Linked DNA regions of Homo sapiens: region 2 is linked to region 1. Evidence: fine-mapped expression QTL. Tissue or cell type: lung. Region 1 holds a variant in brackets; the other region holds the start of a gene. All regions are shown on one strand. Distances are between the middles of the regions.

Evidence for each region. PIP is the estimated chance that this variant, and not a neighbour inherited with it, causes the effect.
Region 2: it holds the start of TAS2R20, and the variant in region 1 is fine-mapped to the expression of TAS2R20 in lung (GTEx, PIP above 0.99). The same link has a PIP of 0.9 or more in monocytes.

Annotation. Positions count from the first base shown.
Region 1 is chr12:11,181,177-11,186,304 of GRCh38, reverse strand. TAS2R42 (taste 2 receptor member 42) reads left to right here. Exons shown (of 1, transcript NM_181429.2): 1 at 1-312. The coding sequence ends at 312. Among named protein-coding and RNA genes, the nearest start is that of TAS2R42, 3.2 kb to the left of the region's middle. The variant T/G (reference allele first, on the strand shown) is at 2,225.
Region 2 is chr12:10,996,192-11,001,353 of GRCh38, reverse strand. It overlaps TAS2R20 (taste 2 receptor member 20), which reads left to right and starts at 3,050. Exons shown (of 1, transcript NM_176889.4): 1 at 3,050-5,162. The coding sequence starts at 3,479. The coding sequence ends at 4,408. The region is part of intron 3 of PRH1-TAS2R14 (PRH1-TAS2R14 readthrough); the gene reads left to right. All of the region lies in intron 3 of PRH1-PRR4 (PRH1-PRR4 readthrough), which reads left to right. It also overlaps a transcript of PRH1 not described here.

The DNA.
Region 1 (5,128 bases):
AGAAATTTGAAGCTCAGTTCCTTGGGCTCTAGAGACTCCAGCACAGAGGCCCATAGGAGGGCCATGAAAATGGTGATGTCTTTCCTTTTCCTCTTCATAGTTCATTTTTTTTCCTTACAAGTGGCCAATTGGATATTTTTTATGTTGTGGAACAACAAGTGCATAAAGTTTGTCATGTTAGCCTTAAATGCCTTTCCCTCGTGCCACTCATTTATTCTCATTCTGGGAAACAGCAAGCTGCAACAGACAGCTGTGAGGCTACTGTGGCATCTTAGGAACTATACAAAAACACCAAACCCTTTACCTTTGTAGACAGACTTTACAGAAGCTTTTCTAAGAGAATAACTCAACAAGGAGCATTTGGGGATCACTTCCACTGTTTTTTTTTTTTTTTTCTACTGGGTTTCTCTAAGTATTTTGGAACATAAATGAAATCCTACCAGGTTGCTTTTGATGGTAATTCACACATTGCCGGTCGATACCATTTTAAAAGTAATCATTTTTGTTTGGAGCATTGGCAAGCAATATTTTAACCTCACATATTATTTCAAAAAATCTAAATTATTTAATTTTATATGCAAACGATAGGTAATTGCAACTTGTGGAGAAAAAGGTGTGTGTCTTTAAAAGCAAGATAGATTACAAACTTGAATGGGTAAAAGATATATACAATGTGGATAGAAAATCTAATTAAAAACTAAAGTCACAGCAGGAAAAATATAGCCTCATAGCTTCAAAGCTAAACTTTTTTTTTTTTTTTTTTTTTTTTAATGGCATCTCACTCTGTCGCCCAGGCTGGAGTGCAGTGGTGTGATCTTGGCTCACTGCCACCTCCACCTCCTGGGTTCAAACAACTCTCCTATCTCAGTCTCCCGAGTAGCTGGGACTACAGGCACACACCACCACACATGGCTAATTTTTGTATTTTTAATAGAGATGGGGTTTCACCATATTGGTCAGGCTGTTCTCGAACTCCTGACCTCAGGTGATCCACCCGCCTTGGCCTCCCAAAGTGCTGGGATTACAGGCATGAGACACTGTGCCCAGCCCCAAGCATTTTTTTTAAATGAAAAAAAGTGGTTTTTTTTTGTTATTAGAAGTCTTGTTGATAACAAGGAAATACGACGATTATGTGAGAAAAGGAGAAGATTTGTAGTGTGAAATAAAATAAATTATCTTTAAATGGAAACTGGAAACACATGATTTAATGCTGATGTCAATTTAAAACCCCAAATAATAAACATTTTGATGTTTCTAGGCACATGCTAATTTTGCTAAATTCTAGGACATGCAATATGCATTTTCAGAGAGGCAGAAACCAATGTTTCTACCATGTTATGTAATAGAACTAAAATTATAGAAGTTTATGTCTTAATTCACAATTATACTCATATTGCTACTACAAAAAGATCATAATTACATTCTGAGGATGTTTGTGTTTGTGTTTGTTTATGTGACATGCATTTTGTTGCAATCTGATCACTGTATTTCTTAGAGGAAAAAATAGAAACAATGTTAACCAGCAAGGCACAGAAAGCAAAGTGATGTTGTTTATAGAATGTTGCAGGCTTATTGTAAATTTTAGACAAGCATATGTATACATAGTGCTGCTTTGACTGTGATAATCTAAGATTAGATAAGGTAACAAACTACAGATTGTAAATAAGGCTAAGGGTGGGAAAATTTACTAAAAATTTTGAATATGATGGCATAGATTAAAACACTGTACAGAAGCTGTATAGTGAAACTTTTTAATAACAAAGAATTCCTTTTAGAATTTACTTTTGATATGTTCTTTATATTGTGCTAGATTACAGAAACAAAAATGTGCTATTAAATACTGATAAATACATGCTTGTAAATTAATCTTGATGAAGCTATAGTTGAGGGCATGACTCCACAGCTGTGCCCTGGAGCCGGAAATGATGTTAGAATTATTAGTACTTCCCCCTCCCCATATGCATAAAATGAAATTGTAAGTACATCTGGGCTATATGGTATCATGTATCAATAACAATGATGTTGATGATTGTTTTAATGATAATACAACATCTTTTTTTAGTAATTTGCATTTTACAAAATAAAATGTACATATATTATTTTGATCACTAATTTAGTATTTTGTCAAAGATTATAATTATAATTTTCTTGCCTTGATAAAAGGTAATGTGCAAATCAAGCTGAATATATTTTAGACTTAGATACTGAGTTTATTTTAAAGATA[T/G]TCTTTTATATAAATGACTTAACCTTGTATTCTTTAAAACACAAAATACTATTTATATTTTTGTGTCAGTAAACTTTTCTTTGATAAGCAGTTGATCCAACTCATAAGCAACCTTAGTGGTAAATTAATACATGTCTAATTAAGAGTAATACATGTCTAACACTTAGTAGGCAGCAACCCCAGGGAGATGGGACTACAAGGAACAGGACCCCATTCTTCACAATAGAAGCAAAACAAAAAAGTAGTAAGAGCAGCCCGGGACATATTCTGGTTATTGCAATTGATGTATTGTAATCCGTTTTTGTTTTTTGTTTTTTTTTTTGACACAGAGTCTTGCTCTGTCGTCCAGGCTGGAGTACAGTGGGGCGATCTCGGCTCATGGCAACCTCCACCTCCCGGGTTCAAGTGCTTCTCCTGCTTCAGCTTCCTGAGTAGCTGGGATTACAGGTGGTGTATGCCACCACGCCTGGCTAATTTTTGTATTTTTAGTAGAGATGGGGTTTCACCATGTTAGCCAGGCTGGTCTCGAACTCCTGACCTCAGGTGATCCACCCACCTTGGCCTCCCAAAGTATTGGGATTACAGGCATGAGCCACCGTGCCTGGCCAGTAATCTGCATATTTGAATGGCAAATGAGAGCAAGCTCTGCACCTCCACTTTCTCCCAAACAAGGCCTTTGTGGGAATTTAGCAGCCACCAAGCCACAATCCAAGAGCCATGCCCAACACATGCACTGACACATGCAACATGCAACATCCCATCAACAAGACTGATGGGATTATGACCTACCCTGGGACCCAGCTGTTGGGGAAAGAGGGAAATTATCACTCATTTTTATAGACTCCCACTCATCTCACTTGTCAAATAAATGCTCATTTCAAGATACTGGGTGTAATCATTGTGGTTATTTCAATGCATACAGTCAGGTAATTTATAGGACAGGAACAAATAACCTGTTTCTACTGCTGAAATTGGCTTATCTCCAACCCATAGCTCTAGTTCTGAAGGCAAATAAGACACAAATCAAGTATATCAAGGCATGTTTTCTTAAACTGTACTGAATGTAACATCAGGTAGAAACCCATACCAATACTGATTTCCAAGAAAAAGGAGCACCAATTTCCTCACTGTCTTGGGTGGTTTATCTGCTATGTCTTAGTAGGTGGCTTTTTCTAGCAAAATCTTCATTAGACAGCATCTTCTCTGAGCCAGATCATGCTTTAAGGGGTGTTTTTTTTTTTTTACAAAAAAACTTTTAGTTTCAGGGGTAAATGTGCAGGTTTGTTACACAAGTAAACTCATGTCATGGGAGTTTGTTGTACAGATTATTTCATCACCCAGGTATTAAGCCTATTACCCAATAGTTATTTTAGGGGGTGTTTGTATATTTGCACAGTCATTTTGCTTTCATTCTAGACACTGGATGATATTTTGTCTAGAGTAGGACATAGATTAATTATGTAGATTTAAAAAATTGTGATTATTAACTTGGACTTTGAATACAACTCATAGTATATGGGACTTGTGGTTTTTATACTTGTTATTGCATCTTTTATTTTTAGTTTCTTCAGCGTAACTACAAACTTAGATGTTCTTTAATCACTATCTCCTGACTGACTTGTTTTCGGTGTTTTTCACAGCTAAACCATGCCTATCAATGGAATCTTCTTCTCAATTAGCCTTTACATGACTTGCAGAGCATTTCTGAAAACATTAGTGATCTCTAGGGCTATCTTGCTTCTTGGGTCATGAAATCTAGTTTTCTAGCCATCTTCAACAGAAGTAGTTCCTTTTCATGAAGAAAAGTACCAAGCCTCCCCCATCTTGGGTGGCAGACCATGTTCCTTTTGATTCTGTATGATTTCTTGATTGAACTAGAAAGATTACAGAGCAGTGTTGGGTTTTTCAGGATTAGAACAGAAATCTTTCATAAGCTCATACATGAATGTAACATTTTCTGTAAGGAGGTACTTTCTTTTCTTGCTCTGATACTTGTTTCACAGTCAAGCCTAATTCATTTTCTCCTTTTGTGTGCTGCTAGTGGGACTGCCAACTAAGTTAGCACTAATTCATTTAACAAATAGTTATGGAAGACCTGCTATTATCCATGCCCTTTATGTTCTGTGAATTGGAAACAGACTAATGAACAACAACAAAAAAGTCGCTTATGTGGTTGTTAAGAGAGTTGGTGGCCAGTTTGCCAGTCAGCGTCAAAATTGGCTGAATGAGAAACACATTGTTAGAGAACAAGGCAGGCAAAATCCTGTCCTGTCCTTGCAGAATCATAGATTTGCAGCTTTTGGGTAGAAATATTTTTGCCTGGGTTTGGGAGTCACTGTAAGACATACATCAAGAGCCTCTCAGTGAGTGCCAGCAATGTACTCCAGACCAATTAGGTAAAAAAAATCCCTGGGAGTGGCCCACAGGCATCAATATGTTTTTTTAAATCTCCCAAGTTAACTCCAATGTGCAGTCAAGTTTGAAAAACATTGTATTAGAGTTACAAAATAATACAAATAAATTATAAAATGTATTTTACTGTGGATACATTTTTATGAGACAAAGAATTTTACCAAAGGAAGAATTAATGAAAAGGAGAATCTCCCTCCTATTCTCCCTCTTATGTTTTTTTGCTATTTTTCCATCCTTTTTTACTATTTTTTTTTCATTTCAGTTGATAAGAGCTTATTCAAAATCAAATAGCCAGGAAGGCATTGGAAACCAAGCTCAAAAGTTCAGTAAAATAGCTCAGATAAAGGAATACTTTTTGTTTCTTTACATATGCTTTTACATAATTATGTAAAATCATCTCCCTTTTTGTCTATTTCTTTAAGAAATCCTAAAAGCTTCAAGACCCAAGCCAACTGTCATTATCTTCATGAAACTAGAATTAGTTATTGGCCA
Region 2 (5,162 bases), 180 kb after region 1:
CAGAGCTCCACTTCTGCTAATAAAAAAAGAGTAAAATTTAATTTGTAAAATAGAATGGTGTAGCTAGGGTTGAGGTGCTATAATTTATTTATTGGAATGGCATCTTGAGATCCAGCACAGCTCATTGAATTTCCCTGTGGGGAGAGTTTGTGGTGAAGACTCATCAACAGACAAGCTGCTATCCCCCCCTAAAAAAAAAAGCTACTAACATCACATCAATTTCCAGGTTCTTCCAACTTGCGGAAGGATGTGTAGACCAAGCTTTTATTCTATTTTGTGACCAAAGTCTTGGGAAAAGAAGAAAATTGTTAGCATTTTCATGTCAAGCATACGAAAAACAAAAAAACAAAGCCAACCAACTGAACAAAGAACCCAACTTTTTTTAAAAAACTTGGTGGTAAGAGTGCTTTGTTCTGCTTCTCCATAGATAATGATTTATAGAAGGAGAACAAAATATAATTTCTGCTACTAAAACAATAATAGCAAAAAATAAATAATCAATATTGAGAATCCAATAGACAGAGTTAACAACCAGTTAGACATAGAAGAGAGAATTAGTGAATTGGAAGACAACTATAAAGAAAGAAGCCTAAAGAGACCACAAGACAAAGAATGCCAAGCTAAGAGGATAAGAGGCATTGATGCTACAATCAGAGCATCTAACATACTTCTGGATTTCTGGAAGATTAAAAGGGATAAAATAGGGCAGAATCAATGTTGTGGAGATTTTCCCAAAAGTGATAAAATGTATTAATCCATATATTTTTAGTAACCATCAAAGGTCAGACAAGATAACTAAAAACAAATTAACATAAAATGTCACAAGACATCAAAGACCAGTAGAAAATCTGAAAAGTAGCCAGAGGAAAAGATAGATTATTTTAAAAGGAACAACTTTCTAAATGACAACCTGATTTTCAACAGAAAAATGGAAAGTAGAATTCAATGGAATCATGTCTTTAGTGTGTTTCAAAAGAATAGAGGACCTTCATAAACAGAAATCCAAATGATATTTTTCAGATAAAAAATATTGAAAATACAAGGTTAAGCATGCAAGAAGGAATAAAAATTAACAGAAATGATAAATATGTGCATAATTCTAAATGAATGTTGACTGAATAAAATAATAGCGTCTTGCTGAGTTAAATATATTATTGATAAGATATATGCAAATAGCGATAAAGAGACTGGAGGTAAAGGTGACAGGAACAAATTTAGATAAATTATTTTTTGCACTTTTCTATGTCTGTGAGGATAATTTGAACACCACATTTAATGACCCCATAATAGGAATTGCATCAAATGATATGTGAAATAATGCTGATAGTAGTATTATTCATAATAGCTCAAAAATAGACTGCCCAAATATATATTAACTAAGGATGATTGAATGATATGAAAGATTACAGTAAATCCATACAGTGGAACAGTATATAGAGGTGAAAAGAAATGAATCACATGTACATGCAACTATGTAACTAAATTTCAGAAACATGATATCTAGTGCAAGAAGCCATGAACAAGAAGAACACACAGGACTGCACCTATACACAGTTCAAAGCAGGACAGACCAAGCTGTGGAGTTTAGGGTTGTGAACCTAGCTGGTAAAGTATAAAGAAATTCAAGCAAATGATCATCATAGATTATGAATATTGCTTATCTCAGGAGATGTGAATAAAGGTTTAGGGGCTTGGAAAGTGGCCTGGAAGTGGACCTAGTCTGTTTGCAGTGTTCCATGTCTTATCCTGCATGATGGTTACATAAGTGTTTATGATACATTGCTCTTACCTATTTTTGTTTTGGCCCATTTCTAAGTGTGCATTATAATTTTATTTAAAAAATTACAAATTGGGAGAAATGTCACGTAAAAATTATTAATTGCTCTGCTCATTATATACCTAGGGGGAAAATCCACCATTTACGTACATTCTTATACAACTCAAGAGAGCTAAAGTGAATTCTTATTTTAGTTGCAAAATGGAGAAATTTGAGATGCTGTTACCTACAGCCTCCAGATCTTTCCAAAAGTTTTCTTCTAGTTTTAGATATTCACCTCATATTACAAAAACTTTGATATTTCCAACCTATTTTTCCTTTGGCTCCTGAATTTCTGACACAACAAGGGCGCACATATTTCTCAAACTCTTGGATTAGCAGAGTACCTATATCACTTAGCTTTTTCTGCAAAAGAAACTTCTCCAAAACCACATTAGATATTTATATCTCACATGTTTTTGGATTCTGTTTTCTTAAGCTGGGGTTTGGTGGATGGCTCTGGTGATTTGAGATGGTCCAAGTTTTGCCTCTTGGATCTAGTTAGAGTTTGGCCGATTTAAGGCTGGATCAGGCAGGAGCCATATGATTCCATGAGTTACTCATTCTTATTCTGGGAACAGTGTGTTAGTGTGGACATGTTCTCATTATAAACCGGAAAGGAACAAGAAAGCCTAATGTGGAGGTCATCTCAAATTTCGATGTAAAGTGTAGTAATTTTCTGTTCATCAAAGCAAATTACATGATCGAACTCAGAGCCCTAGTGCAAGGTTGTCACTATGCCTGTGGTGGGAGGACACTGCAAAATTATGTGACAAAGGTCTGGTACTCAGGAATGTTTACAAGCTTGCAGGTAGCATTACCAAAAGCCTAAGCATGAGAGATATGTTTCATGAATATTATTCATTGGCTGAAAATCTGGCATGGGAAAAATAGGACTAATTCCACCAGGACGAGCTCCTGGAAACTCATTTTCCATGTCATAAGTTACAAGAAAGCAATTCCTTCCATCCTTGAAGAGTGAAAGTGTGTGTGTGTCTGTGTGTGTGTTTATGAGCTTGTTAATAGTGATGCCATATAGAAGTATTGGTTAACAGCAACCAAATTATAAGGAGTATTGGCTTTCCTGTGGTTTCCAAGAAAATCTTAGGTGATTTTGATAAAAAGTTTAGATTCTGTGTATTTAAATCTGGCTTTAAAAATAAATCCATAGTGATTTTGATCCTAGATTTCACCAGGCTCTTTTAACAATATATTTTTTGTGTCATCTATGTACTGGGTATTAAAATTTCCCCAACAACTGAAGGGCTGAACACAAATTATGGAAAGGTGAAACAAGGAAAAAATTGCAAAGCAATGAAAGAGGATATGTCTTTATTTGAATGCTAGCAAATGAGAATTCAGCTTTCCCTTCAACATCAGTATGAAAAATTTCAGCCTATAGCAAGAATAGAGACTTTATGAATAAGAATTAATTTGAGTTGTTTTGGGACTAACAGTATTTCCCATAAAGGCAGCATTGAACTCATTCATTAGTTTAAGCTGGTGCTTTTCTGTTGACATTGTTCACAGAATTTAAAAGTATAAAGAATGTTATTGGACATTCAGGAATCAAGTGCATATTTAACTTAAAGTCTTGAATATCAGAGGAGTCACCATCAGTGACATTAGGCCTGAATTTTTTACTTGCTTTTTTGTTTAGACATGATGAGTTTTCTACACATTGTTTTTTCCATTCTAGTAGTGGTTGCATTTATTCTTGGAAATTTTGCCAATGGCTTTATAGCACTGATAAATTTCATTGCCTGGGTCAAGAGACAAAAGATCTCCTCAGCTGATCAAATTATTGCTGCTCTGGCAGTCTCCAGAGTTGGTTTGCTCTGGGTAATATTATTACATTGGTATTCAACTGTGTTGAATCCAACTTCATCTAATTTAAAAGTAATAATTTTTATTTCTAATGCCTGGGCAGTAACCAATCATTTCAGCATCTGGCTTGCTACTAGCCTCAGCATATTTTATTTGCTCAAGATCGTCAATTTCTCCAGACTTATTTTTCATCACTTAAAAAGGAAGGCTAAGAGTGTAGTTCTGGTGATAGTGTTGGGGTCTTTGTTCTTTTTGGTTTGTCACCTTGTGATGAAACACACGTATATAAATGTGTGGACAGAAGAATGTGAAGGAAACGTAACTTGGAAGATCAAACTGAGGAATGCAATGCACCTTTCCAACTTGACTGTAGCCATGCTAGCAAACTTGATACCATTCACTCTGACCCTGATATCTTTTCTGCTGTTAATCTACTCTCTGTGTAAACATCTGAAGAAGATGCAGCTCCATGGCAAAGGATCTCAAGATCCCAGCACCAAGATCCACATAAAAGCTCTGCAAACTGTGACCTCCTTCCTCATATTACTTGCCATTTACTTTCTGTGTCTAATCATATCGTTTTGGAATTTTAAGATGCGACCAAAAGAAATTGTCTTAATGCTTTGCCAAGCTTTTGGAATCATATATCCATCATTCCACTCATTCATTCTGATTTGGGGGAACAAGACGCTAAAGCAGACCTTTCTTTCAGTTTTGTGGCAGGTGACTTGCTGGGCAAAAGGACAGAACCAGTCAACTCCATAGATTCACAAGAGGTGCATTGTGTGTTTTCTAGCAGAAAACAAATTGATGGTGTCTGGAACATTTTATATTTCCCACAAGTTTTTCCGTAGTCTATGTATTTGAGTAATTTCCAAAAGTTGACATAGAAAAGTCTTTTACCTAAGTTTATTATATAAAAGTATATATATATAATATACATTTGCGTGTGTGTGTATGTCTGAATGTATATGAAAATTTAATATTTACCATAACATACCTTTAATCAACTTTTCATATAAACTGTTCAGTTATACCAAAGTAGGATAAGAAATTTCTCAGAATTATGAACCCATGTGTATTTCACACATTTTTTTATATGATATTTCATTTGAGGAATTTATGATCTCTATTTATAATTAAGAACTGACAGCTTATATCAGAAAATCATTGCTGTTTTTCGTTGTAAAATCATTGCTGTTTTTCGTTGTAATTTGTATCACGTATATGTACCATAGTGTGTTTAACTGTTTAACTATCATTGTTTGAACCTCTAATTTTTTGGATGGTAAGGACATTTAATTCTAAATCGATGAGAATGTGTCTTTGGGGTAGGTTTTTTTGTTTTTTTTTTAATCATGAATTCTTTTTTTCTTTTTTTTGAGATGGAGTCTTGCCCTGTTGTCCAGGCTGGAATGCAGTAGCACAATCTTGGCTCACCACAACGTTCACCTCTGGGGTTCAAGTGATTTCCATGCGTCAGCCTCCTGAGTGGCTGGGACTCCAGGCATGCGCTACC